Regions from separate parts of the Homo sapiens genome. Here all the other regions are linked to region 2. Evidence: fine-mapped expression QTL. A gene starts in region 2. Each other region holds a variant in brackets. All regions are shown on one strand. Distances are between the middles of the regions.

What was found. PIP is the estimated chance that this variant, and not a neighbour inherited with it, causes the effect. A credible set is the group of variants that fine-mapping cannot tell apart.
Region 1: its variant is the best candidate, but not a certain one, in a credible set for the expression of CNNM3 in whole blood (TOPMed, PIP 0.60).
Region 3: its variant is the best candidate, but not a certain one, in a credible set for the expression of CNNM3 in sun-exposed skin (GTEx, PIP 0.55).

Annotation. Positions count from the first base shown.
Region 1 is chr2:96,785,200-96,796,123 of GRCh38, forward strand. All of the region lies in intron 1 of CNNM4 (cyclin and CBS domain divalent metal cation transport mediator 4), which reads left to right. Among named protein-coding and RNA genes, the nearest start is that of MIR3127, 7.6 kb to the right of the region's middle. The variant T/G (reference allele first, on the strand shown) is at 7,009.
Region 2 is chr2:96,810,527-96,821,450 of GRCh38, forward strand. It overlaps CNNM3 (cyclin and CBS domain divalent metal cation transport mediator 3), which reads left to right and starts at 5,742. Exons shown (of 8, transcript NM_017623.5): 1 at 5,742-6,976. The coding sequence starts at 5,752. It overlaps CNNM4 (cyclin and CBS domain divalent metal cation transport mediator 4), which reads left to right. Exons shown (of 7, transcript NM_020184.4): 7 at 1-1,348. CNNM3-DT (CNNM3 divergent transcript) reads right to left here and starts at 3,131. Exons shown (of 2, transcript NR_149141.1): 1 at 2,968-3,131; 2 at 1,713-1,963. RefSeq lists an enhancer at 4,889-5,008 and silencers at 5,349-6,328, 6,339-6,478, 6,489-6,598.
Region 3 is chr2:96,859,553-96,865,479 of GRCh38, forward strand. It overlaps SEMA4C (semaphorin 4C), which reads right to left. Exons shown (of 15, transcript NM_017789.5): 6 at 5,889-5,927; 7 at 5,652-5,768; 8 at 5,412-5,563; 9 at 5,153-5,328; 10 at 4,686-4,830; 11 at 4,374-4,596; 12 at 4,130-4,242; 13 at 2,185-2,342; 14 at 2,027-2,097; 15 at 166-1,903. The coding sequence ends at 1,074. Among named protein-coding and RNA genes, the nearest start is that of ANKRD39, 4.5 kb to the left of the region's middle. The variant A/G (reference allele first, on the strand shown) is at 2,810.

The DNA.
Region 1 (10,924 bases), 25 kb before region 2:
GCTCTTCAAGCTTTTCATCTTGCCCCTATTTTAAAACCTTTTTTTTTCTTTTTAGTTTGTGCCTCCATTCAATCAAAAATTATGTACATGTGCTGTTATACTAGTACATGTATTATAGAATGAACACAGAAAAAATTTAAAGAAGTAAAACCGAAGTCCAGGTGCAGTGGCTCATACCTGTAATCTTAGCACTTTGGGAGGCTGAGGCAGGAGGATTCCTGTAGCCCCAGAGTTTGAGACCAACCTGGGCAACATGGCGAAACCCCATCTCTACAAAAAATACGAAAGTTGGCCAGGCATGATGGCCTGTAATCCAGGCTACTTGGGAGGCTGAGGTGGGAGGATCAGTGGAGTCCAGGAGGCCGAGGCTACAGTGAGCTGTGATCGTGTCACTCTGCACTCCAGCCTGGGCCACAGAATGAGACCTTTGTCTCAAAAAAGAAAACATAAAAAAATTAGCTGGGCGTGGTAGCATGTGCCGGTAGTCCCAGCTATTCTGGAGGCTGAGGTGGGAGGATTATTTGAGCCCAGGAACTCTAGGCTGCAGTGAGCTATGATTGTACCACTGTTGTCCAGCCTGGGCAACAGAGAGAGACCCTGTCTCTAAAAAAAGATAAAAATGCCAGGCGCAGTGGCTCACGCACTTTGGGAGGCTGAAGCGGTGGATCACGAGGTCAGGAGATCCAGACCATCCTAGCTAACATGGTGAAACCCCATCTCTACTAAAAATACAAAAAATTAGCCGGGCATGGTGGCGGGCGCCTATAGTCTCAGCTACTCAGGAGGCTGAGGCAGGAGAATGGTGTGAACCCAGGAGGTGGAGCTTGCAATGAGCTGAGATCACGCCACTGCACTCCAGCCTGGGCAACAGAGTGAGACTCTGTCTCAAATAAAGAAAAAAAAAAGATAAAAATAATTTTTAAAAAGTAAAGATAGGCCTGGCGCGGCAGCTCACGTCTGTAATCCCAGCACTTTGGGAAGCTGAGGTGGGTGGATCACCTGAGGTAGGGAGTTTGAAACCAGCGTGGCCAACATGGCGAAACCCCGTCTCTACTAAAAACACAAAAATTAGCCAGGAATGGTGGCATGCTCCTGTAATCCCAGCTACTCGAGATGAGGCAGGAGAATTGCTTGAACCTGGGAGGCAGAGGCTGCAGTGAGCCAAGATCGTGCTATTGCACTCCAGCCTGGGTGGCAGAGCAAGACTCTGTCTCAAAAAAAAAAAAAAAGTTCTTAAAAAGTAGTGTATTAGAGAAACTTAGAAAAGTGGAAAATGATTAAGAAATGAAAGTCACATGGCCAGGTACGGTGGCTCATGCCTGTAATCCCAGCACTTTGGGAGGCCCAGGTGGGCAGATCACTTGAGGTCAGGAGTTCCAGACCAACCTGGCCAACATGGTGAAACCCCGTCTACTAAAAAATACAAAAAATTAGCTCAGCGTGGTGGCAGGCACCTGTAATCCCAGCTATTTGGGAGGCCGAGGCATGAGAATGGCTTGAACTTGGGAAGCGGAGGTTGCAGTGAGCTGGGATCGCACCACTGCACTCCATCCTGGGTAACAGAGCAAGACTCTGTCTCAAAAAAAAAAAAAAAAAAAAAAAAAAGTCACTCTTATCCCATCATCCAAAATGTGGATATTTTGGTGTATTTTCTTCTACCAAGTCAGCAACAAATGATATTGCTTCTCCCCCAATATGAAAATAGTGTCTAATTAGAAGAGTAAAAATAAAAAATAGCATGTGAAGTATAAAATGCATTAAGCAAAAGTGAAGGAAACCAGCAGTCCTTCCTACTCTACTGTTTTGGAACTTTTTACTTTACACAAATAGTGAATCACCGTCTCTTGAGATAAATTCATGTCTGAGTCAGCCTTTTTAAGAGCCCTGCAATATTGTTACAAATAACATTGGCAGGCCCTCCTGGGCACACCTTGCATGCTGGCCTGGGTGTTTCCTTTGTATTAAGGTCACTTCCTAGGGTTGGGAGAAATGGCAGAGTCCAAGGTCTTGCATATTTTACATTTTGGCACATACTGCCAAATTTCTGAAGTAAAAATTGAACTTCCAACGGTGGGTAGTTCTCCTGCCAACACTGAGAGTACCAATCTCTGAAATCTTGACTAATATGATAGGTAAAAAATGAGTTCATTTTGAAAATTTGTATTTCCTTATATTTTGTTTGTATTTATTGTATTTCTATTTAAAATTAAGCTAGTGGTTTTTCTTAGGGATTTATAAGTCTGGTATAAAACAGTGACTTTGGACCAGTTAGCCCAGTAACTTTCATTGAATAATCTCTCTTTTCTCCTGCAATTTAATATACCAGATTTATTATATACAGTATTCCCAATTTGTTGGAGTTTATTTCTGTCCATAAGCCAGGCATGGTGACTCACGCCTACAGTCCCAGCATTTGGGGAGGCCATGGTGGGAGGATCGCTTGAGCCCAGGAGTTCGAGATCAGCCTGGGCAGCATAGTGAAACCTCATCTCTACAAAATTTTTTTTAAAAATTAGCTGAGCTTAGTGGCATGCCCTATAGTCCCAGCTACTTGGGAGGCTGAGGTAGGAGGTTCACTTGAGCCCAGGAAGTCAAAGTTGCAGTGAGCTGTGATTGTGCCACTGTACTGCAGCCTGGGTGACAGAATGAGACCCTGTCTAAAAAAAATTGAAGTAAAATAAATATTTCTGTCCATTGTTCTCTCCAGTACCGCACTGTTTTTGTTTTGTTTGCTTGTTTTTGAGACAGAGTCTCGCTGTGTTGCCCAGGCTGGAGTGCAGTAGTGCAATCTCAACTCACTACAACTTTAGCCTCCCAGGTTCAAGTGATTCTCCTGCCTCAGCCTGCTGAGTAGCTGGGATTACAGGCCTGTGCCACCATGCCTAACTGATTTTTGTATTTTTAGTAGAGATGGGGCTTCACCATGTTGGCCAGGCTGGTCTTGAACTCCTGACCTCAAGTGATCCGCCCATTTTGGCCTCCCAAAGTGCTGGGATTACAGGCATGAGCCACAGTGCCCTGCCCAGTACTACACTGTTTTAATCGCTGTAATCTTTTTTTTTTTTTTTTTCTGGAGACAGGGTCTCACTCTGTCTCAGAGTCTAGCGAGTATAGAGTGTATGGCCTGCCTGCTGGGCCACCGCAGCCTTCTGGTCTTCTGGCCTTTGCCTGGACTGACTGCCCTGACTGCCAGCTGTGTCTCTGGGAGGAAGGGAGCAACATAGATGAGCCCTGTTTAGGATTATGGATGAACCCAGCTGCCCTCCCCGAGGCTAGAGGGCAGGGGCTTGTCACTCTGGCTGGTTCCTCTCCTGCCCTGGCTCTGCCTTCTTGCTGGGCTGGCTGCCACTCATCCCGGTGGTTGAGGTCAGCACTATTAATAGCCAGCTTAATCCTGCGGGAGCTTGGGTGAAGGGAGGAAAGAGCAGAGAATCGCCAAGAAATCAGGGTGCTCAGCTATCTGCAGGTGTGGACCCAGGGCCCAAGCCTGTGGCTTCCAGTCAGTCCAGCCCGCACCTCTCCCATGGGAGGGCCTGAGAGCGCGGGAACATCCTGGGCCCCTGGGATCTCAGAGGCTGGACCTTCCTGGGAGACTCATTGAGTAAGATGCAGAGGACTCCTTCTTGGGTGGTGGGAGTCCCTGGTCTGCTCTGGGGCCCCTGGCTTTTCCCCATGAGAAAAAGCAGCTGGAGCTGGTGAGTAGGGCCCTCTCATGGCCCCTGTGGACTTTGTAACCCAGCACCTATAATACGGTTTTCTTAAGGACTTCAAGGGGCTGTAAAGTCTTTTTTTATGGAGGGCGGGGAAGGAGGACGCAGCAGTTTGCTAAAATGGGCATTGTGCAGGGTGGGGCCATCCTTTCTGTATCCAGCAGGGGTGTGGAGCACCTGCTGTGCTAGGCATAGTGGGAGGGGTTGGGGTAGCATGGCGAGGAGCGAGGGCACTACTCAGGCCTCGCCAGGCTGCAGCCTGGTCAGTGGGAGATAGACGCCGGTCAGCCGATGGCACAGAGCTGTGAAGGGAAGAAATGGGTCGGGATCCAGGGCCCTAAAAGACAACATGGCTAACACCCAGGGCTAACGTTTGAGCCCAGGGCAGAAGGATAAAGAGGTGACACGGAGGCTGGGGAGCAGGAGGAGCTGTGAGGGACTCAGGCAGGGCTGGGATCCTCCTTGCCCTTGTGCCAGCTGTGAGGGAGGCTGAGGCTGGCACCTGTGGTCTGCCCAGCCCTCCGGGGTTTCTGGAGGCCTCACATGGTGTTCTTTGACTGTGGAGGGCACGGTCCCACCTGGCTGCTGCTGGACAGAGGTCGCTGGAGGGCAGAGTGGGCAAGCATGCCGCCAGGCAAAGCCTGGAGAAGACAGTGGGGACAGCCAGGGTGCCAGGAACCTTCTTTCTGGACCCCCTTTCTTGCAGTGCTTGGAAAGGGCTTGGGGAGGCTCAGGAACCCTGAAGTCCCAGAGGAAGCGGTATTAGAATTTTATTTTATTTTATTAGTTAATTTTTTTTTTTTTTGAGACAGAGTCTGTGTCGCCCAGGCTGGAGTACAGTGGTGCGATCTCGGCTCACTGCAACCTCCGCCTCCTAGGTTCAAGTGATTCTCCTGCCTCAGCCTCCTGAGTAGCTGGGATTACAGGCCCGCGCCACCACGCCTGGCTAATTTTTGTATTTTTAGTAGAGACGGTGTTTCACCATGTTGGTCAGGCTGGTCTTGAACTCCTGACCTCGTGATCCACCCACCCCCCGCCCCCGGCCCTCCAAAATGCTGGGATTACAGGCGTGAGCCAACACACCCGGGCTAGAATTTTTTTTTTTTTTTTTTTTTTTGAGACGGAGTCTTGCTGTTGCCCAGGCTGGAGTGCAGTGGCGTGATCTCGGCTCACTGCAGGCTCCGCCTCCCGGGTTCACGCCATTCTCCTGCCTCAGCCTCCCAAGTAGCTGGGACTACAGGCGTCCACCACCTCACCCGGCTAATTTTTTGTATTTTTAGTAGAGATGGGGTTTCACCGTGTTAGCCAGGATGGTCTCGATCTCCTGACCTCGTGATCCACGCGCCTCGGTCTCCCAAAGTGCTGAGATTACAGGCGTGAGCCACCGCACCCGGCCTAGAATTTTTTTTTAAAGTTAATTTGATGGATGTGTTTTTTTGTTTGTTTATTTATTTGTTTTTTTGAGACAGAGTTTAACTCTTGTTGCCCAGGCTGGAGTGCAATGGCACGATCTCGGCGCACTGCAACCTCCACCTCCCAGATTCAAGCGATTCTCCTGCCTCAGCCTCCCGAGTAGTTGGGATTACAAGCATGTGCCACCATGCTTGGCTAATTTTGTATTTTTAGTAGAGATGGAGTTTCTCCATGTTGGTCAGGCTGGTCTCAAACTCCCCACCTCAGGTGATCCGCCTGCCTCGGCCTCCCAAAGTGCTGGGATTACAGGCATGAGCCACCGCGCCCGGCCTAATGGATGTGTTTTTTTTTTCTCATTATGAGATTAATACTATTGGCTGGGCATGGTGGCTCACCCTTGTAATCCCAGCACTTTGGGAGGCCGAGGTGGGCGGATGGATCACTTGAGGTTGGGAGTTAGAGACCAGCCTAGGGAACATGATAAAATCTCATCTCTACTAAAAATACAAAAATCCAGCTGGGCACAGTGGCTCATGTCTGTAATCCCAGCACTTTGGGAGGTTGAGGCGGGTGGATCACCTGAGGTCAGAAGTTCGAGACCAGCCTGGCCAGTATGGTGAAACCCTGTCTCTATTAAAAATACAAAAATTAGCTGGGCATGGTGGCCTGTGCCTGTAGTCCCAGCTACTCGGGAGGCTGAGAGAGGATAATTGCTTGATCCGGGGAGATGGAGGTTGCAGTAAGCTGAGATCGCACCACTGCACTCCAGCCTGAACAACAGAGTGAGACTCTGTCTCAAAAAAAAAAAAAAAAAAATTAAAATACAAAAATTAGCCAGGCATGGTGGTGCATGCCTATAGTCCCAGCTACTCAGGAGGCTGGTGATCCACCTGCCATGGCCTCCCAAAGTGCTGGGATTTCAGGTGTAAGCCACAGCGCCCAGCCCGTAAAATTGTATTTTAATGAGCTACCTTATGTTATTATTGGTGTCCATTCAATTGGCTGATTAGATTTTGGGGGTGGCATCGGCTGGGTACAGTGGCTCATGCCTGTAATCCCGGCACTTAGGGAGGCTGAGGTGGGTGGATCACCTGAGGTCAGGAGCTCGAGACCAGCCTGGCCAACATGGTGAAATTCCGTCTCTACTAAAAATACAAAAAATTAGCTGGGTGTGGTGGCGGGCGCCTGTAATCCCAGCTAGTCAGGAGGCTGAGGCAGAAGAATCCACTGCACTTGAGCCTGGGCAAAAGAGAAAGACTCCGTCTCAAAAAAAAAAAAAAGAAAGAAACATGGAAATTAAAACAATACATCTACAGCTAAAAATCCACATTTTTCAAAGTAGTCCTTAGTCAATGAAAAATGACTGAGGAAATATAGCAAAATGTTAGTATTTGCTTGAGCCATATAAAATTGCTGATATTCAATTATATTTTACCAAAACCAGCAATTCATGTGGCTTAATCTACATATGGGGGATTCAGGATGGTTTCTATTTTCTGTTTTCTTTTTATATTTTCCTATATAAAAAATTCCAAATTTTTCATAATCAATAGTATTAATTTCTTTTTTTCTTTGAGATGGAGTCACTCGCTCTGTTGCCCAGGCTGGAGTGCAGTGGCATGATCTTGCCTCACTACAACCTCCACCTCCTGGGTTCAAGCAATTCTGCGCCTGAAATCTCAGCACTTTGGGAGGCCGAGGTGGGCTGAACACTTGAGATCAGGAGCAGGAGAGTAGCCTGGCCAACATGGTGAAACCCCATCTCTACTAAAAATACAAAAAATTAGCCGAGTGTGGTGGCAGGTGCCTGTAATCAGGCAGACTGAGGTGGGAGAATCACTGGAACCTGTGAGGTGGAGATTGCAGTGAGCTGAGATCACGCCAC[T/G]GCACTCCAGCCTGGGTGACAGAGTGAGACTCCAGCTCAAAAAAAAAAAAAAAACCACACACACACAAAAATACAATTTTATTAGAATTTATACAATGAGAATCCTAAATATAAGCCCTAAATTGATCTGCTTATTTTAGATGTTAAATCAGTTAGCAATAATTTCCGAAGTATAGAAACTTCTAAATTAGTAAAATCTAAAATAATTCTTTCCATCTTCGGCCTCCCTTCCCCTTCCCCGCTCCCCTTCCCCTCACTGGTTACTTTTCTCCTCCTGCTAAATGGATGTAGAGGCACAAAGAAAGACAGGAGGGACTGGTCACGGTGGCTCACACCTGTAATCCCAGCACTCTGGGAGGCCGAGGAGGGTGGATCACCTGAGGTCAGGAGTTCGTGACCAGCCTGACCAACATGGTGAAACCCCATCTCTACTAAAAATACAAAAAATTAGCTGGGTGTGGTGGCGGGCGCCTGTAATCCCAGCTACTTGGCAGGCTGAGGCAGGAGAATCCCTTGAACCTGCTAGGTGGAGGTTGCAGTGAGCTGAGATCGCGCCACTGTACTCCAGCCTGGCGACAGAGCAAGACTACATCTCAAAAAAAAAAGAGAGGAGGTCAGGCTCACCGTCCCATGGGCCTGATAACTGGGACAGAGCTGCCCTAAAGGGAGACAGGAGTGTTGGGGGGATGGGCATGAGCTGGGTTTTGGCTGCGTTAATTTCAAGGTATTAGTGACGTCAGGCAGCACTTGGATAGAGGAATCTGGAGGGCACGGGAGAGGACAGGGCTGCAGAGATTTATTTGGGACACTTGTACACTTGTATTTAAAGTTGCTAGGCAAGGGACCAGGTGTACAGACTGAGTTCTGAGTCTCTCCAGCATTTAAGTGGTCAGGGAGAAGCAGTGACTCCTGAGGTCAGGAGCACTGGGAGGGCTGTGCCCTGGAAGCCCTGGGCAGAAAGGGCTTCCAGGGGAAAGGAGGGAGTCACCGTTGGTCAGCAGGTCATCTGAGAATAACACTCCACCATGAAAGGTCATTGGTGACCTTGACCAGAGGCTCTCTGGCCCGGGGAGGGGAAAATTCTACCAGGACAAAAAGATGTCCCCTCTGGACAGACAAATTAGAAAATAGGAAAAACAGCCCAGGGGCCCAAAGCTCACCCTGCAGAGGGTGACTGACTGGCCCCTTAGGCTGGAACCTCTGTACGGAACCCCAGTTGGCCAGCCATCAGGCAGTGCCCAAAGCTCAGCTTGCAGAGGAGGGGTGAACGTGTACATGGTGCTCAGGGCTGTACACCTACAAGGTGCCTGTCATGCAGCTGGCTGCCACCCGAGGGTGCACACACACAGCAGTGGATCCCGCCAAGGGGTCTCAGAGAGGAGGCGGGGGGCGGAGAATGGTATCAAGACCCTGCTCAGGGAATCAGCTCATTTCATCCGCAGGAGGGCTGTTTCCACTATAAGAGAGGCTGCCAGGCCGGGCGCGGTGGCTGACATCTGTAATCCCAGCACCCTGGGAGGCCAAGGCAGAATGATCACTTGAGGTCAGGAGTTCGAGACCAGCCTGGCCAACCTGGCGAAACCCCGTCTCTACTAAAAATGCAAAATTAGCTGGGTATGGTGGCGCACACCCAGCTACTCAGGAGGCTGAGGCAGGAGAATCGCTTGAACCTGGGAGGTGAAGGTTGCAGTGAGCTGAGATTGTACCACTGTACTCCAGCCTGGGCCACTCCAGCCTAGGCTACACAGTGAGAGTCTGTCTCAAAAAAAATAAAAACAGAGAGAGGCCAGCAGCCTTTCACTGTGAGGGAACCTTTCGTTGGTCAGGATTTGGTCTGAGCCTGTGGAGTAATTAGGGATGTGAATGTAGTGGAGAGGTTGTTTTCTGACTTTGGGGGTCTGAACAAGGTTCTGCTCACTGAACCTTGTCAAAGAACACACCCCCATTCCCTGGGGCTCGATCTGTGGCAGTAAAAAGCACAGAGGGCCCTTGTCCACCCTAGAGACTCTCACCAGTTTCCCTTTGTTCTCCTTAATTTTGTTTTCCCCCTTAATTTTGTCTCAGTTTTGTTTTTAAATTATAAAAGTAAAACATGCCCATCAAATATAACAGTATAGAAGGGTATATAGAGAGGCAAAATAGCCTCCTCCCCAAACTCCAAATACCCCCAAAGGTGACCACTCTTACTACTTCTGGACGCTTCCAGGGCAGTTCAAGCCCACACACGCCTTTGTTTCTGTGAAGGCAGATGGCTCCATGCATTCTGTTCCGTGACTTGCTCTTTCACTAATAGCGTATCTTGGATTTCGTTCCGCGCTTTATTCATCCACCTCTGCCGTGTTCTCCCTTGAGTAGCTGTGGCCCCTTTTGAGTCCCTGTGCCCTATTGCTATTGCTTTAGGTTGTTTCTGGTTTGGGGCTGTTAAAAAGAATGTTGCCAAGAGCCCCCTTCTCTTGTGTCTTTTGTGAAGGTTGCCTCTCCCTAGGGTGAGTTCCTAGAAGTGGACCTTCTAAGTCCAAGGTTAGGAACCCTTGATTTTGTGACATCCTGACCAACTGGCCCCCTGAAATGTACCCTTTTACCTGGCCACCAACCAGATACATGTGAGGGCCTGTTTGTCTTCCCCATCCTCCACCATAACTGGGCATTACCAGGCTTTTTAGAGGGTGCCCATCTGGAAGGGGGTACAGGTTGGGCATCCCGAATCCAAAAATCCAAAATCCCAAATGCTCCAAAATCCAAAACTTTTTGAGTACCAACATGATGCTCAAAAGAAATGCTCATTGGAGCATTTTGTAGTTCAGATTTTCAGATTTGGGATGCCCAATGGCGTGTATTCTGCAAATATTCCAAAATCCAAAAAAATCTGAAATCTGAAACACTTCTGATCCCCAGTGAGGAATAAGGGATACTCAGCCTGTCAAAGCTGCCTTGCTTTAATTCCCATCCCCATGTGGTGACATGGTTTAGCTAGATGCCCAGGCCCTTCCAGGCACTGTCTTTCTGGAGGGCACTCCTGTATGGACAGCCTCCAGCAGGCACAGAGGCCTGGGGGCGGACCCCAGGGTCCCGGCCTGGCCCGCTGCCGCCCTGCTGGAGGGCCTCACAGATCTCTTGAACTTGTTGGCTCATCTCTAGGAAGATACTGGGGTATTTTCAATCGAGTCCAGCCATGGCTTTGTCTAGCAAGACGCTAAATGTTTTTTGACCAGAACCTGTAGTGGGAAATACATATATCATAGCCCCTGGCATGTGTGTGAAAAACTTTCACAATGCAGTACCCCCCCCCCCATCACATGGGGTGTATTGTGAGAATTTTTACTTTAGTCATGAGACCTCACATTCTCTCTGCTCTCCCTAAGAGGCCCTTAGAAGTTCTTAACAGCCCATCTTGGGCTGGGGGATTTTCTGTGGCCTTAAAGACCTGGAAAACATCCTCCACCGAGGGTATTTAGGATGAGTTCTTTAGTCCCTAGAGCGAGGCCCTTGGATTGTGAAGGGGAAGCCATGCAGAAGACCCTGACTTGACCTTCCCAGATTTCCGGGGGCCTTTCTTCCTAGGCTGCTCCAAACCTGTGTTCCTGCGAGTGGGGTATGGCACACAGGACTCATTCCACCTAGACTGTGGACCTAGCCCTTCTTGGCTGGACCCTCTTGCCACTCATGGGGCTGGGGCCATAAGAACAGGGTGTGGCCTTCAAAAAGGGGTCTGGGAAGACCCACCACCCCACAGGGTTTCTGTGGAGGGTCCTGCCCCATGCCAGCCTCCTTCCCTCACTTTGGGTTGAGGGGGTGGCCCCTCTCTAATTGTAGTCTCTGCCCCACCTAATCACAGTGCTCGGCCTCTCTGTGCCCTTGTCAGTTTGGGTCTTTCCCCTCCCCAAGAGTTCCAGAAGCCCCTGATAAGTGATACCAG
Region 2 (10,924 bases):
ACCCCCGCCCCACAATGACAGTCAAGGCTGACTTGTTGACTGAAGCCTTTTTCCCAGACCCCTTATTTCGAATCCCCAAGCTTCAGTCCCTCTTGGGGGTGGAGACAAGAGGACATGTGGGAAGCCACGGAAGCAGGTTCTTTATGTCCTCTCCTCTGTGGCTGGCAAGGCTCACCTGGCCTTATCCACCCACTTATGGAACCTCAGGAGAGGAGGGCTCCTCCTAAAGGCATGCAGCTTGCAGCCCCTCTTTCTCACACGTGTGATCCTAGCGTGAGAGGTCATCCTGCCCTTGCTGAAGTTAGTAGTACTGTACTAAGAGCTCTGCCCTCATGTGAATTCCTGCCCTGGCGCCTCTTCCCTGGGGCTGAATCAGGCCCTGCTGCAAAACTCCAGGCTTCCCAGGGTTGGGGAGGCTGTGGGACCAAGGTCCATGTTGGTCCTTCCACTGGGTGCAGCAGGAGCTGGGTCCCGAGAGCCTGGCAGGTGAAACTCTGCAGGCCTTCCGCCTGATTATTATTTATTCACTCCTTTCCTCACCCCAAGTGCCCTGCTCTCCAGGTGCCTAGAGTATCCTAACTCTTAGGACCAGGGATTGTCTTGCACCAAGTATGCCTACCCCTGGCCAGTCTGAGGTCTCCTAGCCATAGAACTGACTCCTGGAAGCCTGGAGAGAAGGTGGTGACACCCATGGGTTCTCAACTGTAAGGAAAAAAGACACCAGACTTTTGTTCCCTAGTGGGGGAAAGCCCTTAGTCTTGTACAGGAGCAGCTTGCTCCCAAGTCCTTTTGGAAGCTGGCAGAGCTATATTCCTGACAGCCCTGACTGCCAGGTAGAGCAAAAGACATTGGTGGGGGTATGTGAAGCAAAAGGGGCAGGTGCACACACCTCCACAGTGACCTCTGTGCACACGGTTACCACCAACTGGCTGGCCCTCCTCCTCTTCCCTGGCCCATTGATCATCCCTTCTCACAGAGGGTCATCATTATTTCCAAATATTGTTTGTCTGATGACTTCCTCTTCCCAGTGCAATTTTTCCCTTCCTATTTCAACCTCTGGTTCCTGGGATGAGCCATACCCTGGAACTGGCCCACCCACTGTGTCTTCCACGTAAGGGAGACCTTTGCAAAGGGCATCCAAATGGGTAGGCAGGTGACAGCCGCCGTATTTATTTTGCATAATATTTTAATTTGTATATTTTTGTGATTTATTTTGGCGTTATGAGTTTGACTCTCGGGGAGTTTTGTTGTTATGACTCTTGTGTCTTTTGTCACAAAACAATGATATTTGCTAAACGATATATGGAATTTATTTTTGATTGGTAATAAAAAATCAAATATGTATAAATCCTGGTGAATCTACAACTTGCCTGTTTGTTCTGTCAGTATTCAGTATGTTGTTGAGATAAAAGTGGCTGTGGCTGGCTGTCTCTTGTGATGGGACAAGGGCAATAAAGGATTCTAGGACCATTCAGCAGTGAAATGCAATCAGAAATGGAATTTCTAAATATAGTCAAGGCTGTCGTCACAGGAGTGAGAGGGACGTGGCTGCTGGCAGACATACAGGACAGATGTGCTCAGCTGCCATAAGCATGAGTCCTGTGAAACAGATCCCATAGGGCCCTTGGCTTGTGAGTACTGGAAGGGCAGTGGGCTTCAGCAAATTGCCCCTCCTCCCTACCCATGGGACTGAAAGAAGCTTGATCCAAAAGTATGAGTAATATTGTTTTATAACATGCAGCTGCCTTTTCGTCCACACCTACAGGCTAGTGGTTTCAAAGTTGGAGTGTTCATCCCTTGAAGAACCTGAGTTACGTCACTATACCCACTCTCAAAGTTGCAGCTCTGCAGGGGACTCCCATGGTGCTGTACAGGTGCTGCAGGCTGGCTTGTGCGATTGAGTGTGCTGAGGCCAGGGGCTCCAAGCATGCAAAGTTCAATGGAGTAGACAAACTGGGGGCATCTATGTAGGCAACAAAGAAAAGAGGATATTCCAGATAAAAGAGGTACACATGCCAACGTCTGTGTCTGGGGCAAGATTTGTAAATTATCTTCATCCATCTGTTCCACACGTTTAAATCCCTTTCGCACGCCAGGTACTACCAACCCCTCTGTGAATTTAATGAAGAACCTTCCCACCACCCCAAGGGGGACAGTCACACACAGCTTTTCCATTTGCTGTCTCCCTGACCTGGGACACATCTCCTAAGTCTTGGCGAGGCTCACCCCTTATTTCATTTAAGCCTCAGTTCAAATGCCATCTCCTTGAGAAGGCTTCCGATTAGCCCATCTCAATCAGCATCACCCCAGCATCTGTCTCTTTATCTTGCCTTTTTCCCTCCATAGCACTTACTACCAAATATTGAAATATAGACTTGGGTATTTTCTATCGTCCTTGCGCTAGAATCTAGCCTCACAAGGGTAGGGACTTAATTTTATTCCCACTACAGTCCCAACACTAGAACAGTACCTGCTACACTGCAGGGACTCAATGCAGGAAATACTTGTTGAATGAATAAATGAATACATGTTACAACAGGGGATGTACTGGATGATATGGGGAGAGCACATAGCTCCAATAACCTTGAGCCAACCTAGTCGAGGGTCAAGGAAGATCACTCGGAGGGAGCAGCATATGAGCTAAGGCTTGAGAGAGAAGCAGGAATTAGCCGGTGGGTTTAAAACTCAAGAATAAATATTTAGATATAACATGGAAATGTCTTGATCCAAAAGACCAGTAAGGAAAACGGCCCAGGGAGGGCCAACAGTGGTCTGAAGGTCAAGTGGCTGTGTCTCCACTGATGCTAACCAGGGGTGGGGTAAAGAATGGCACAGCCACAGGAGAAGCTGGTCAAGGACTGTTGAGGCCTCTACTGCAAAAGGGAAACCACTCCAGGAGCAGCTTTGCGTGCCCCATATTGGATTTTTTTGTATCTTTGGGTACTGACAATTTAAATGACCACTTACGTTTTCCAAGTTTGATCCAATTGTTCTTCCACCTGAAGCTTTACTCCCAGAAAGTTAGTTATAGGTTGTTTTCCAAGGAAGCCTGAGACAAGGAAAAAGTAACCTGTTGAAGGTGAGAGCTCTGTCTCTAAATCCATGGGGAGTTTTTCCTGGCTTTTCTCTGGAACTGTTGTTTGTTAATGACTTTTCAGGCACATGACTCATTTCAAGCATGTCATCCATTCTATTTCAATGTCAGTATTTTATCTTGACGTGGAGACAGAAGTGAGAACTAAAGGAGCTGAATCTATTGTAATGTTTGCACTTTTTTTTTCTTCAGAGGCATGATGTTGCAGTGCAAAGGCCCAGTAATGTCTTTATTGCTTCTGCTGGCGGCTTACTCTGTAATCTGCAAAAGTAAGGTAAACTCAAAGGGCACAGAACATCACCTGAATAATAAAAAACACGGAGATGCCCCATTGGCCTAGTCACAGCTCTGAGTTTACAATGCAGAAGAGACACTATTACCATCTTTTAAAAATACACTATTACCTTTTTTTTTTTGAGATGGAGTCTCGCTCTGTCACCCAGGCTGGAGTGCAGTGGTGCGATCTTGGCTCACTGCAACCTCCGACTGCCTCCCGGGTTCAAGCGATTCTCCTGCCGCAGCCTCCTCAGTAGTTGGGACTACAGGCACCCGCCACCAAGCCCGGCTAATTTTTTGTATTTTTCGTAGAGACGGGGTTTCACCGTGTTAGCCAGGATGGTCTCCATCTTCTGACCTCGTGATGTGCCCGCCTTAGCCTCCCAAAGTGCTGGGATTACAGGCATGAGCCACCGCGCCGGGCCACTATTACCATTTTTTTTTTTTTGAGACATAGTCTTGCTCTGTCGCCCAGGCTGGAGTGCAGTGGCGTGGTCTCAGCTCACTGCAAGCTCCGCCTCCCGGGTTCACACCATTCTCCTGCCTCAGCCTCCCGAGTAGCTGGGACTACAGGTGCACGCCACCACACCTGGCTAATTTTTTGTATTTTTAGTACAGATGGGGTTTCACCATGTTAGTCCGGATGGTCTCGATCTCCTGACCTCGTGATCCGCCCGCCTCCGCCTCCCAAAGTGCTGGGATTACAGGCGTGAGCCACCGTGCCCGGCCAGCTATTACCATCTTTTAAAAAGTTTTTTACAGGCCGGGCGCGGTGGCTCACGCTTGTAATCCCAGCACTTTGGGAGGCCAAGGTGGGTGGATCACGAGGTCAGGAGATCGAGACCACGGTGAAACCCCGTCTCTACTAAAAATACAAAAAAATTAGCCGGGCGTGGTGGCGGGCGCCTGTAGTCCCAGCTACTCGGAGAGGCTGAGGCAGGAGAATGGCGTGAACCCGGGAGGCGGAGCTTGCAGTGAGCCGAGACTGCGTCACTGCACTCCAGCCTGGGTGACAGAGCGAGACTCCGTCTCAAAAAAAAAAAAAAAAGTTTTTTACAAAGCCTTTTCCTTTGGTCACTCACCACCAGCTTACTCATTTTTTTTTTTTTTTGCACATTACCTTCCACACAAGTTTTACTTTGTGGCCACAATGTGCATACTTTTTTTGATTGTTACTTTCATGACATAGCAAATTGTTTCTATAGAGTCTTTATAAAGGTCATTTAAAATGACATGTGCAGTAAGTCAAAGTCTTCTTGTGCTAGGAAATTTGAAAAAACAAAAGTGTAGAGAAAAATACAAAAATTACTGAATCTGAACATCTATAGAGAAGTGTTGTTAGCAGTTGGTTTATTTCCTTCCAATCACATACAGATCATATCTGATGGGTAAAGAATATTCCATACTGTCAACAGACCACACTGTCTTCTAAAATCGCTTCAGCAGTGAGGATCCTCTGGAATAGATCTTGTTAATCCTGAGGAATTATTCTCCCAGCGGTGAGCTATGAGAAGTGGAATCACCAGATGTAGTAATTCCTGACAGAACTGCCGCCTGCTTGTGTGGCTGAGATGCTGACCTAGGTATCAGGCTGGTCGCGCCGGAACCCAGCACCCACGCTGAGTCTTTCTGAGCTCCACTCTGCTCCTGTTAGATATTAACCACCTGAGGTAGCTGTCCAGATTCAAGGCGGTAGTGATTTTGTGTGTCTGTGTATTTATCACGGGGTCCGCGGCGGGAACGCAGGGGCTGTGTCCCACGTCCCCAAACCTCTAGTAGGGTACGGCGCGATGAACATCTTCCATAAACCTTAAACCTCCCGGCGCTCAGTCACTGGTTCTTATTTCAGCCCTCTTAGCCCCGTAGGTCGGCGCGCTGAAAACCTTTCTGGTACCTGGGGCCTTTCCTAAGAAAAAGGCACATGTCTCGCACATTTCAGTCTGGTCTGCAACTTCAGGCGCGCCAGCACCCGAGGTTCTTCCGACCGGCCGCTCCGCTCCCAAGCCGGGAACTTCCCAGAGAATTGGCTCGGCCTCCGGGCGCGGGGGACAGCATCGGGAGGAGTGGGACTCCGGGCGCCGCGCACGGGCCGAGGACAGCCGGGCTTGGGAGGCCCTGCCCGCCGCCCCGCGTCCTCCCGGCCACTGCCACCCCGCGCATCCGGAGCCGCAGCAGACTCGGCGGGGCCCGGAGCCCCACGCCCCCGGCCCGCCCCTGGCCGCCACTTGTTTACTCCCCGGCGCAGCCTAGTCCGACCCTGGGGCCCGCCCCCGCCCACCGCCTATTGGCCGAGGAGGCGCGAAGAGCCGTAACGATTGGCCCGGGGAGGCGCGGGGCGAGCGGGGTAGGCTGCGCGAGAGGCCGAGAGGGGGCAGCAGGCGATGGCGGCGGCGGTAGCTGCGGCGGGTCGGTTAGGCTGGTTGTTCGCCGCGCTCTGCCTGGGCAACGCCGCGGGGGAGGCCGCGCCGGGCCCGCGAGTGCTGGGCTTCTGCCTGGAGGAGGATGGAGCGGCGGGCGCGGGTTGGGTACGCGGAGGGGCGGCGCGGGACACGCCGGACGCCACCTTCCTCCTGCGCCTCTTCGGCCCGGGCTTCGCCAACAGCTCTTGGTCCTGGGTGGCCCCGGAGGGGGCGGGCTGCCGGGAGGAGGCGGCCTCCCCCGCGGGCGAGTGGCGCGCGCTGCTGCGCTTGCGCCTGCGGGCCGAGGCCGTGCGCCCGCACTCGGCGCTGCTGGCGGTGCGCGTGGAGCCGGGTGGCGGGGCGGCTGAGGAGGCGGCGCCGCCCTGGGCTCTGGGCCTGGGGGCGGCCGGGCTGCTGGCGCTGGCAGCGCTGGCGCGAGGCCTGCAGCTGAGCGCGCTGGCGCTGGCGCCTGCCGAGGTGCAGGTGCTGCGCGAGAGCGGCTCGGAGGCGGAGCGTGCGGCGGCGCGGCGTTTGGAGCCCGCGCGGCGCTGGGCCGGCTGCGCCTTGGGCGCGCTGCTGCTGCTGGCCAGCCTGGCGCAGGCGGCGCTGGCGGTGCTGCTGTACCGCGCGGCCGGCCAGCGTGCGGTGCCCGCCGTGTTGGGCAGCGCGGGGCTCGTGTTCCTGGTGGGAGAGGTGGTGCCGGCCGCCGTGAGCGGGCGCTGGACGCTGGCGCTGGCGCCGCGAGCGCTCGGCCTCAGCCGCCTGGCCGTCCTGCTCACTCTGCCCGTCGCGCTGCCCGTGGGGCAGCTGCTGGAGCTGGCGGCGCGGCCCGGGCGGCTGCGGGAGCGGGTGCTGGAGCTGGCGCGCGGCGGCGGCGACCCCTACAGCGATCTCAGCAAGGGCGTGCTGCGCTGCCGGACCGTGGAGGACGTGCTCACGCCCCTCGAAGACTGCTTCATGCTGGACGCCAGCACCGTGCTGGACTTCGGCGTCCTGGCCAGCATCATGCAGAGCGGCCACACGCGCATCCCGGTGTACGAGGAGGAGCGCTCCAACATCGTGGACATGCTCTACCTCAAGGACTTGGCCTTCGTGGATCCCGAAGACTGCACGCCGCTCAGCACCATCACTCGTTTCTACAACCATCCGCTCCACTTCGTCTTCAACGACACCAAGCTGGACGCTGTCCTGGAGGAATTCAAGCGAGGTAACGGCCCGGGCATGGTGCAGGGGACGCCCGTGCGAGTGCCCTCTCCCTGAAAAGGGGTGGAGAGTTATGGAAGCCTTCTGGAAAGGGTCCCACCCCTGTGGAGAGCAGTGAGACCTCTAAGGTCCCTTTTCAAGACGGTATTGGCCTTGCAGCTTGGAATGACCTTTTGAAATACTTAAAGGCCATCGATCAGAGTGGGAGGAATCCTTTAGACAGCGAACACTTTAACCCCCGCGTCAGGATAGCCCCCCCCCCCCATTTGCAGGGAGGGGTATGTCCGCTTGTCCTCTAATCCCCCAGCTCTTTCCCTCTCCCAGAGTGTTTCTGTGTGCTTGACTTTGTAGCAGGTCCAAATTTTTGGATAGAAACTAGAAGAACATAGAAAAGATGGTAGTCTCCAGGTATCTGGGATATTGTTGTGTGCACACATGTAATATCAAATTGACTGGACCTGTAATGTTTCCTTCAGAGCATTCTTAAGGTCCCTGGCGTTACTGCAGATAAGGGTATTTAGGTGTCAATCCCTTATCTGCGGTAAAGTCAGGGAAACTTAACACTTTGCTTTCACCAAAAGTAACTCCATTTATGCTGACTTAGTCTCCCTTTCTCCCAGCTCTGTCGCGCAGGCTGGAGTGCAGTGGCCGATCTCTTATCACTGCAACTTTCGCCTCCCAGGTTCAAGCAGTTCTCCTGCCTCAGCCTTCGAGTAGCTGGGACTACAGATGCACCCCACCATTCCGGGCTAATTTTTGTATTTTTAGTAAAGATGGGGTTTCACCACGTTGACCAAGCTGGTCTTGAACTCCTGACCAGGTGATCCACTTGCCTCGCCCTCCCAAAGTGCTGTGATTGCAGGCGTGAGCCACTGTGCCCGGCCCTTTTTTTTTTTTTTTTGCTTTTTAATCTCCTGTTTTTTAAAATTTTATGTAGAGACAGGGTCTCACTATTTTGCCCAGCCTGGTCTCGAACTCCTGACCTCAAGTGATCCTCCCACCTTGGCCTCCCAAAGTGTTGGGATTACAGGCGTGAGCCACCGCGCCCAGCCTCACCTCTTCTTTTCTAACCCTAAGGTCTCAAGTTCTCCCTTAACTCCACATTTTCATCCCTCCCTTCACTGTTTTAGCTGAGCAGTTCGGAGATTGAAGGTAAAACCAGTACCCTCCGGATGTGAAGGTGTGGTTTCTTCTGCAGTCCTCTCCAACATCATCCTTAGTGGTGCTCCCCAGAGTTTGGTGCTCAGACCTTGGTTAACAGCCATGCTTCTCACACCTGCACTCCTGTAGGGTGAGGGTGGGAGCACCCCAGGGTGTTGGATGGACTTGACCCTAAAGGCTGCCAGCTGTAAGGCCAAGAAGTGGCAAAGCCCCCTGGTATTTGTGGCAGGATGTTTCTGGCACCGTCTGTTGAGAGCCCCTGGCCTGTCGTTGCAGGAAGCCAGGCTTTGTGATAATGACCGCTACTCCTGACTGAGCACTGCCGTGTGCCAGGAGCTGATGGGCACTTTCTGTGTAATCTCGTCCCTCATTCCTTGCAGGAGGCCTGGGTGCTAAGTTACTGTTACTGCTGTAGCTCAGGAATGGGTGGGAGGCTTGGGTGGGCAGCTCTATTCTTTTAGACTCTTGGGTGCTCCTGGCTGTGTCCCTAGAACATGGCCATGCCACCCTGCCCTGGGGAGGGAGCCTGGGTTTGGGTCCAGACAGAGCCTCGCGGTGGTAAGTACTCCCATCTGGGCTGCCAGAGGCAGCCCCTGAGGCAGGGGTGGTTCTCCTGGTGTGGTGGCCAACATTGCAACCCTGGAATCAGCGGAGTAGGTTCCATCCTGCCCTTGCCTGCCCCCAGGCCCTGAAGGCTGCTCAGCCTCTTGTGGTGCAAAGTCCTCTGCTGTTAGTGATAAGAGTGGGTAAACAGACCTGCGGGGGGAGACTCATCAAGCACTTTGGCCAGTGCCTGGCGTGCATATGCTGTGTGCTTGGCGTTAGCAGGTGGTTCTTACTCCGGGACAGGCTCTGCTGGTAGGTGAGCTGTTTGCCAATCCAGGAGCAAGGGGTGAATCTGGAATTGCAGATTTCTGTTCTTCTAGGCAGGTCACCAGACTTCCTTTTTTTTAGGGAAAAAGTGGAAGACTGTAGCTGTCCTTTTGGTGTTCAAAGCACTCACGTTTCTAGATTCTTTAAGAAAAAGCTCACTCTGGTGTCTGGCTTCAGCTGGCTGCTGCTTTCAACAGTTGAGCAGTCACCAAGCAGAGATTTGGAGCAGCGGAGATGGAAGGGTTGTCCTGTTCAGAACTAAAGGCAACTTCTGTAGTTGGTCATGATGCTCAGGATGAGGCTGGTGAAAGTGGTCTTTCATTTTCCAAACCGCCAGTGTCAGGATCTTCGCTGCCATGGTCTTGTCTTTCAGATGCGATGGATGAGCTTGGTCCAGGGTGGTTGGGGATTCCACTTGGGGAAGAATAAAAAATGTTCATGTTCGTTGGGAAGGAGCGCAGAGGCAGGATGTCCCCTGGCGGGGGGGCTTGTGTGCTGTGTAAGGAACTTGTACTTGATCACCAGGGCCATGAGCATCAAGCAGCAGCATCAGTTATTTTTACAGATCAGTAACAATTGTGGACACCAGCGCAGGGAGACCAGCGGTGTGAGGGATCCAGGTGAGAGGGGATGATAACCTGAACAAGGTTCATGGCAGGCCTGGAGAGGAGCCCCAAGAGGGCAGCAGAGGTGGAATTGGGAAGATTGGTATCTGGCAGCAGGGCTATGCAACAAGGAGGAGCAGCTGAGGATGAGGCCCAGATTTCTGGCTGTGTGGTGGCGGTGCGCCTTCACTAAGGGCCGGGCGTGGGGAGCAGGTTTTGGCCATTGAATTTGTGTCTGTGCAGTGTCCCAAGAGGCAAACTCCTAGCAGGCCGTTGATGTGAAATGCAAGTGGGAGGCAGAATAGGAGTGTCTCTCAAGTCATGGGAGGGAGGCAGAGAGCCTCAGCCTCCTAGGAGCACAGGTGTGTCAGGGGCAAGGGAAGCCCAGGAGAAGCTGGCCAGGAGGAGGCAAGACCAAGGAAGGAGGAGTTCCCGAGATGCGGAATGTCCTGGAAGCTAAGGGAAGAGACCACTTTCCCAGGGAAGGTGAGTGACAGGAGAGGAGGCCAGCAAACAGGATGCCGTTGACCTTTGCAAGAGCAGATTTGGTGCCACGGCAAGGGAGCCATTTGGGGAATGAATGAGGTGTGGAAAGGTACGAGAACCAATGTAGACAGCCCTCCACAGAGTGTGGCTGCAGAGAGAAGTGACTGGCAGAGGATGTGGGACAGGGGAGGAGGCCTTCTGCTGTTTGGTTTTAAGATGGGCAAGTCCAGTAGGTTCAGATTGAAATGCAGGTTGAAATGTAGCTAGGAAGGAAATTAGAGAGGCCAGGGTCCGGGCTGCTCCTGTTCTGGGCTGGGTGGCCTCCAGGCAGGTCACAAGCAGCCCGATGCAGGAGGATTTGGGGTTGAGTGCCTCTGCTTGAAACAGACCTTTCTAAAAGCTGCCTGACAACATGCTGAAAAGGATCCCCTTGGAAGACAGTGGGGGAGGTTTTTGGAACCTGGAGGTTAAATGGGGAGCTCTTTAATCCCCCTTGACTTCCCCGCTCCTGTGGTGAGTGAGGGCCATTCGTGGGCAGACTGGCCATGTCTTTCTGGTGACATCCCGGAGCTTTTTTCTCTGCTTCTCTAGTTCAGTGCAGTCCTTTGGCAAATATCTTTATTTTTTCCGTGTTAAAGTCCTTTTTGTCCTTCCTAACCTTCTTAAGCATTCCTCCACTTAGGAACAAAGGGCATATTGCAGTCTTTGTGGCGTGTGAGGTTTTAAAAATCGATTCCCTTTCCATCTCTCTGCCAAGCTAATGAGCCTCTGAATTTCGTGGAGCTGGAGTCCCTGCCATCTTGGCAGCTTTCATTCCGGGTCTTGTT
Region 3 (5,927 bases), 47 kb after region 2:
CCACCACTGTGGGAAAACACTAGAGCTGGGCTGTCCCCTCCCACAGGCAGGCAGGGACCACAAAAGTGGTGGCTGCCCTGGGATTGTGGGGGAGGCCCAGTCCAGCCTCCCTCCACCCAGAGAGCCTTCCCTCTTGGTACCCAGAAAGGCTTTAGCCCAAACATCTTAGCCCCATCAGAGCAATCGTTTCATTTTCTCCATTTTATTTGTCAATATAAAAATACTCAAATATTTACAACAAATAAATACGCGGGGACACAATAAGTTACACTGTTAGGAGCCCTCCTCCTAGGGCTGGAAGAGAGTATGCCATTGTCCACAGCAGGCCCACCCTCTCCCTTCTCTCCCCTCACACAGCCTTTCCCAGCCCTGTACAGGAAGAAGGCAAGTATAAAATACCACTGAACCCCGGGGCCAAGTGGGAGGCCCCACCCACCCTTCCCCCCAAACACACAGGAGGCTCCATCTCCCTCCCCCCACCCTGAAAACATTCACAGCCCTAGGAGCAGGACTAGGCCCACCCCAAGCCCTGCACTCCCTCTGAAGGGGCACAGCACCCTGTCCACCCCACCTCCATATGTACATCGCTGCCCGACACTCGGGGCAGTGGGGGTAGGAGAGACAAAGTGATACGACCCCTTCCCCTTCATAGCTCCAATGACTCACCAGGAGGACCCAGGCCAAGGGAAGACTTGACAGAAACAGGAAGGCTATGCCACAAGCGCGCACGCGCGTGCACACACACATACACACACACACAAACACATGTGCAAATACAGACAAACACACATCTTGAAACTTCTGCCTTGAAAAGTTTTGGCGGCTGGGGTCCCGCGTGTCTGTGATTCACAGAGAGGAGGAAGATGCCTTCTGCGAGGCTGGTGCCCTGGTGAGCCACACCAAGTGGCAGTGCCCGTGCTGAGCAGAGCAGGTCCTCATGGCCGGGTGGGTGCTGGGCAGTATCTGTCCCAGACAGAGCAGGTGCCCGTGCCATGTCCCTGAGGTAGCTGGTGCCTGTGCAAAAGTAGGAGCTACACCTCCCACGCTTCCCGCCGACGCGGTGGGGGTTCCCCTCATACTGATGACTCCTCGGGGTTGGAGTCGGGCAGTGGCTGGCGTTGCTGCAGTTTGCGTCTCAGTTCATCCGCGAGCTCAGGCAGGGGGTGCCCGAGCCCTCCCCGGTCCTCCCCTCCTAGTTGTAAGCGCACGTAACCATTGGCATTTGAGTTCCGCCCACCCCCCAGGTGAAGCCGAGTTGGAGAAGGCAGAGGCTGGCCTGGGATGCCTGGAGGTGGCGAAGGGGGCCCCCCACCGGGCTGGCACCGGGCATGCCCAGGTACTATCTTAAGGGAGCCATCTGAATAGTAGTAACCGACAGGATCCCAAAGTTTCTCATCTGGTTCAGGACAGGGCCGGAAGGGGGGACTGGTGGGCTCCTTGGGCAGCTCCAGGGGGTACACCAAGGTCCTCTCAGTAGCCTTGGCCCCTTTCTCCAGCTCTTCCCGCAGCCGCCGGCGCAATGACAGCACCAGCAGCAGCAGCACCAGGCACACAGCCCCCAGGGCCACCACCGCCAGCCACACCAGCCCCAGGTTTTCCAGGGGGGCCCGGGCCTCCAAGGTCACCGACGGGCCTGCCACGACAGCCACAAGGTAGCCTTCAGCAGCCAGCCGCGCCCCCTGCTCCTCTGAAAAGCAGTGGTAGGCCCCGGCATGGCGGGGCTGGGCAGCCATCACAACCAGGGCCTGGAGCCGGGCATCGTAGAGGAAGGACCCGGGCTGTTCCGCAGGCAGGTCCCGGCCCCCAAAGGTCCAGCGGGCATGGGCCAAGTTGGAGGAGAGGTGGCAGGGCAGCACCAGGTCTGTGCCCGCCACCACCGTGATGTTTTTGGGAGTGGGCCTGACTGTAGTGGCAGAGAAAACAGAGTGCATGTTAGTGCAGGAAAGCAGGGCTGGGGAAGAGGAGAACAGAAACTCCAGCTCTGGTCCAGGGCTCAGCCCGATGCGACGGGAATGAAAAAGCTCACCTTTCTTACTGCCACGGAGGTTGCAGATGCCTGAAGTGTCCGAGGTCATCACATGCTGGATCAGTAGAGATCTGGTAGGGGATGTAGGGTACATCAGCAGCCTGGCTCCAACCACCCTGAGTCCCTGGAGGTCCTGGCCTATGTAGAGCCCAACTCACCCAGAGTGGCCACCCACGGCCACACAGCGGCTGGTGTTGACGCTCCAGGCGCAATAGGGGTCCCGGGCGAGGACACAGTCTGCACAGGAGCGATACTTCATGCAGTCGGCCACGGGCAGCTGCACCAGCTGAGAGCGGGAGCCGGCAAAGAGCAGCTTCTGCGAGAAAAGCGGGGCGCAGGAGGGGGGTCGGCCAGGGCCACACCACGGGAGGGGCGGCCGGACCAGAACGCAGCATGGGGACAGCTTGGACTCCTGCAGGGGGCACAGCACGGGGCGCCAGAAGGAGGAACAAGGGAACAAGGCAGAGCTATAGTGCTGAAAAGGGAACTCTAAGAACCGCAGAACTCAGAGGGCTTACACAGGCCAGATGCAATCCTAAGCCCCTTATCGACGTGACGTTATTAGAAAGGGATGATGGGGCTGTGAGGCCAAAAAGTATAATCACACACACTCACACACACATAGTGCAGGAAATACATTTCAAGGCCCATCAGCCCTCACAACAGCAGCAGCATAACATAAGATGTTTTCCTGTTTCAACGGTGGATGCCAATCTGTGTGTTTATTCAACCACACACTTTCTTTCTGCCATTATTCCATGTTCTAGGGGACAATTTTGAGTC[A/G]TAATAGCTGGTAAAAGGCAAACAAATCAAAGTTCAGGAGGTGTAGCAAACATGCCACAAGAGTATTGCACAAGGCAACTAGGAACAGCAGGTCATGCCTGGAATCCCAGCACTTTGGGAGGCTGAGGTGGGCAAATCACTTGAGGTTAGGAGTTCAAGACCAGCCTGGCCAACATGGTAAAACCTTGTCTCTACTAAAAATACAAAAATTAGCCGGCTGGCCAGGCGCAGTGGCTCACGCCTGTAATCCCAGCACTTTGGGAGGCTGAGTCGGGCGGATCGCAAGGTCAGGAGATCGAGACCATCCTGGCTAACACGGTGAAACCCCGTCTCTACTAAAAATACAAAAAATTAGCCAGGCGTGGTGATGGGAGCCTGTAGTCCCAGCTACATGGAAGGCTGAGGCAGGAGAATGGTGTGAACCTGGGAGGCAGAGCTTGCAGTGAGCCGAGATTGCGCCACTGCACTCCAGCCTGGGTGACAGAGCGAGACTCCATCTCAAAAAAAAAAAAAAAAAAAAAAATTAGCTGGGCATGGTGGCACGTGCCTGTAGTCCCAGTTACTTGGGAGGCCGAGGCAGAATTGCTTGAACCCGGGAGGTGGAGGTTGCAGTGAGCAGAGATCATGCCACCGCACTCCAGCCTGGGCGACAGAGTGAGACTCCATCTCAAAGAAAACAAAAACAAAAACAAAAAACCTTTAGCTGGGCATAGTGGCAGGCACCTGTAATCCCAGCTACTCAGGAGGCTGAGGCATAAGAATAGCTTCAACCTGGGAGGTGGAGGTTGCAGTGAGCTGAGATCGCGTCACTGCACTCTAGCCTGGGTGACAGAGTGAGACTCCATCTCAAAAAAAAACCAAAAAGAGTATTGCACAAGGGTATAATGCAAGCACTTCAGGGAAACAGTCACGGAAATGGGGGCTGGAAGGAAAACCACCATGGTGAGGGCATCATAAACATCTCACAGCCTGGGAGGTCTGGTCACAGGGGCATGGTCAGGGAAGAGGCCAGAGCCAGAACCACAGCACAGCTTGGAGGGTCTGAAAGAAACATGGGAGCAGTTGCCAAGGCTTGATGCTGGGAGCGCAGCCCCGTGACCTGGCTATATATAATGGCCCTGTGCAGTGCAGATTCCATTCTGTTTTCATTCTCGTTTCCAGGAACCCACCCCAAGTTAGGCAAGGTGTGCATCCACATGTGTGTGTGTTCCTAACTCTGCACTGGCCAAGCACATAGGCCCAACTGGGAGAAGCAGCCAGATGGAGAGAGTGAGATGGGATAGTGCTGGGGACAGTGGCAGATAGGGCCCAACTTACTACCTTGCTCTGAGATAGCACCAGGCTTCTCATGGGCTCCTGGTCAAACAGCTGCAGCTCCTCAATCAGGTGAACCCAGGGCCCCAGGCTCACAGCCTTGAGCAGCCAGCCGTCTCCTGGGGGGTGCAGAGGAGAAGGTGTAAATGAGAGGGCACAAGGCCGTGGGGCAGCTCCAAATCTCCCTGCCCTGGGCACACGGGCTTCTGCCCAGCCTTGAGCAGCCATGCCTGCATACCCATGCACCCACCTGTGCCAATGAACAGCACTGTATAGGTGGCTCCATCAAGTCCTGTAACCCGGTCGGCCACCAGGTGGGTGAAGTTGGTGCCCTTCTTCACGAGCAGGGGGCGGCTCCACCGAGGCCCCACCTGCTCCTCCATCAGCGGGTGCTTCTTGACGAAGTTGAGGATGTTGTCGGGTAGCTCCAGGGAGCTGGTGTAGCCGTGGCGCCGATGCCAGTTGTTAATGCACTGGGGGCAGGGTGTGGGGGGCAGGCCATCAGCAGGGTGGGATGGCACCGCAGCTGGGTGGGGAGATGCATCCCTGCCCTAGCACTCACCGAGCCAGGCCGAGGGCTGGGTACAGGGTCAGTGTAGCGGTCCCACTTCTGGGCTTCCTCATGGTACTCCTTATAGGGGCCCTCAAACACCCGCTGGATCTCTTCCAACTGGTACTCACAGATGGCCGACAGGTACATGTCACCCCTGTCACAGCGAGAGGGAGCCCAGGGTCAGGTACCCACCTTATCTCTTCCCACCCCAGCTAAGGGCAAGCAGCAGGAAGGCAGGGCCTGGCACAAACTGGCCATGGGTACCAGAATGCCCTGGCAGCTCAAGTGCCACCTGGCATGGGGCCCTGCCCCTTCACAGGCAGCTCTGAAAGGGGCAGGTGCCAGCATTCTCCTTGGCTTCTGGACACCTGGCTTCCGGGACTGCCTCTGAGGCCTGGTCCAGGCTCCCACCCATGCACCGTCCCTGACCTGAACCCCAGCTCCTCCCCACTCTGTGGGAGCCCTGGCCAACTCACCACTGTGCTTGAAAAACCCCAAAGAAGGTGGTGTTGTGCCAGGAGGTGTCCTGCAGGGTGTGCATCGCCTGCAGCTGGTTGAAGTAGAGCTGCCAGTTCGGGGCAGAGCATGCCAGCCGCGCCTTCAGGAACGTGGTCCACTTCCTCTGCAGGGTCCGTGCGCCCCCCATATCGCCCTGGCAGACGGCAAGGGGACACTGCCGGTCAGCCCCGCTGGGCCAGCAGGGCTCCCAGGGCCCACCGCTGTGAGACTCGGTACCTTGCAGACACGGGCCACACGAGCCACCACCTGCTCGGCATAGCAGTCGGACTCCACTGCCCGCTCCCTGAAGAAGAAGTAGACCTTGTCGTCGTCCCCCGTGAAGCTGCCCACACTCTCAGGTACATAGGCAGAGCCTACAAAGTGAGGTTCTGTGGGAAGGGGAGGAGGTCAGCAGGGAGGGGCTGGGCCCCGGGGGACCTCCCACCCATGGCTCCCACAGGCCCCCCGGTGGCTCACCGTTGAGCCAAAAGGCCAGGTACTCTGTCTTCATGGAGTGGTGGGGCCCCATGTTACGCAGGATAATGGGTTCCGTGCCCAGGAAGTTGTTGAGTGTGGCCGAGTACAGCTCACCATCTATGGGAGACAGAGGTCAGCTAGGCCACACATGAGGTATGGACACATCCGGCCAACACAGACCCAAGTGGAACCAAGCCCCAAGGACTCACCCAGCCTGCATGGGGGGCAGCCACTCACCCACAAGAAGGCCAGCATGGCCCTTAGCTGGGTCATAGG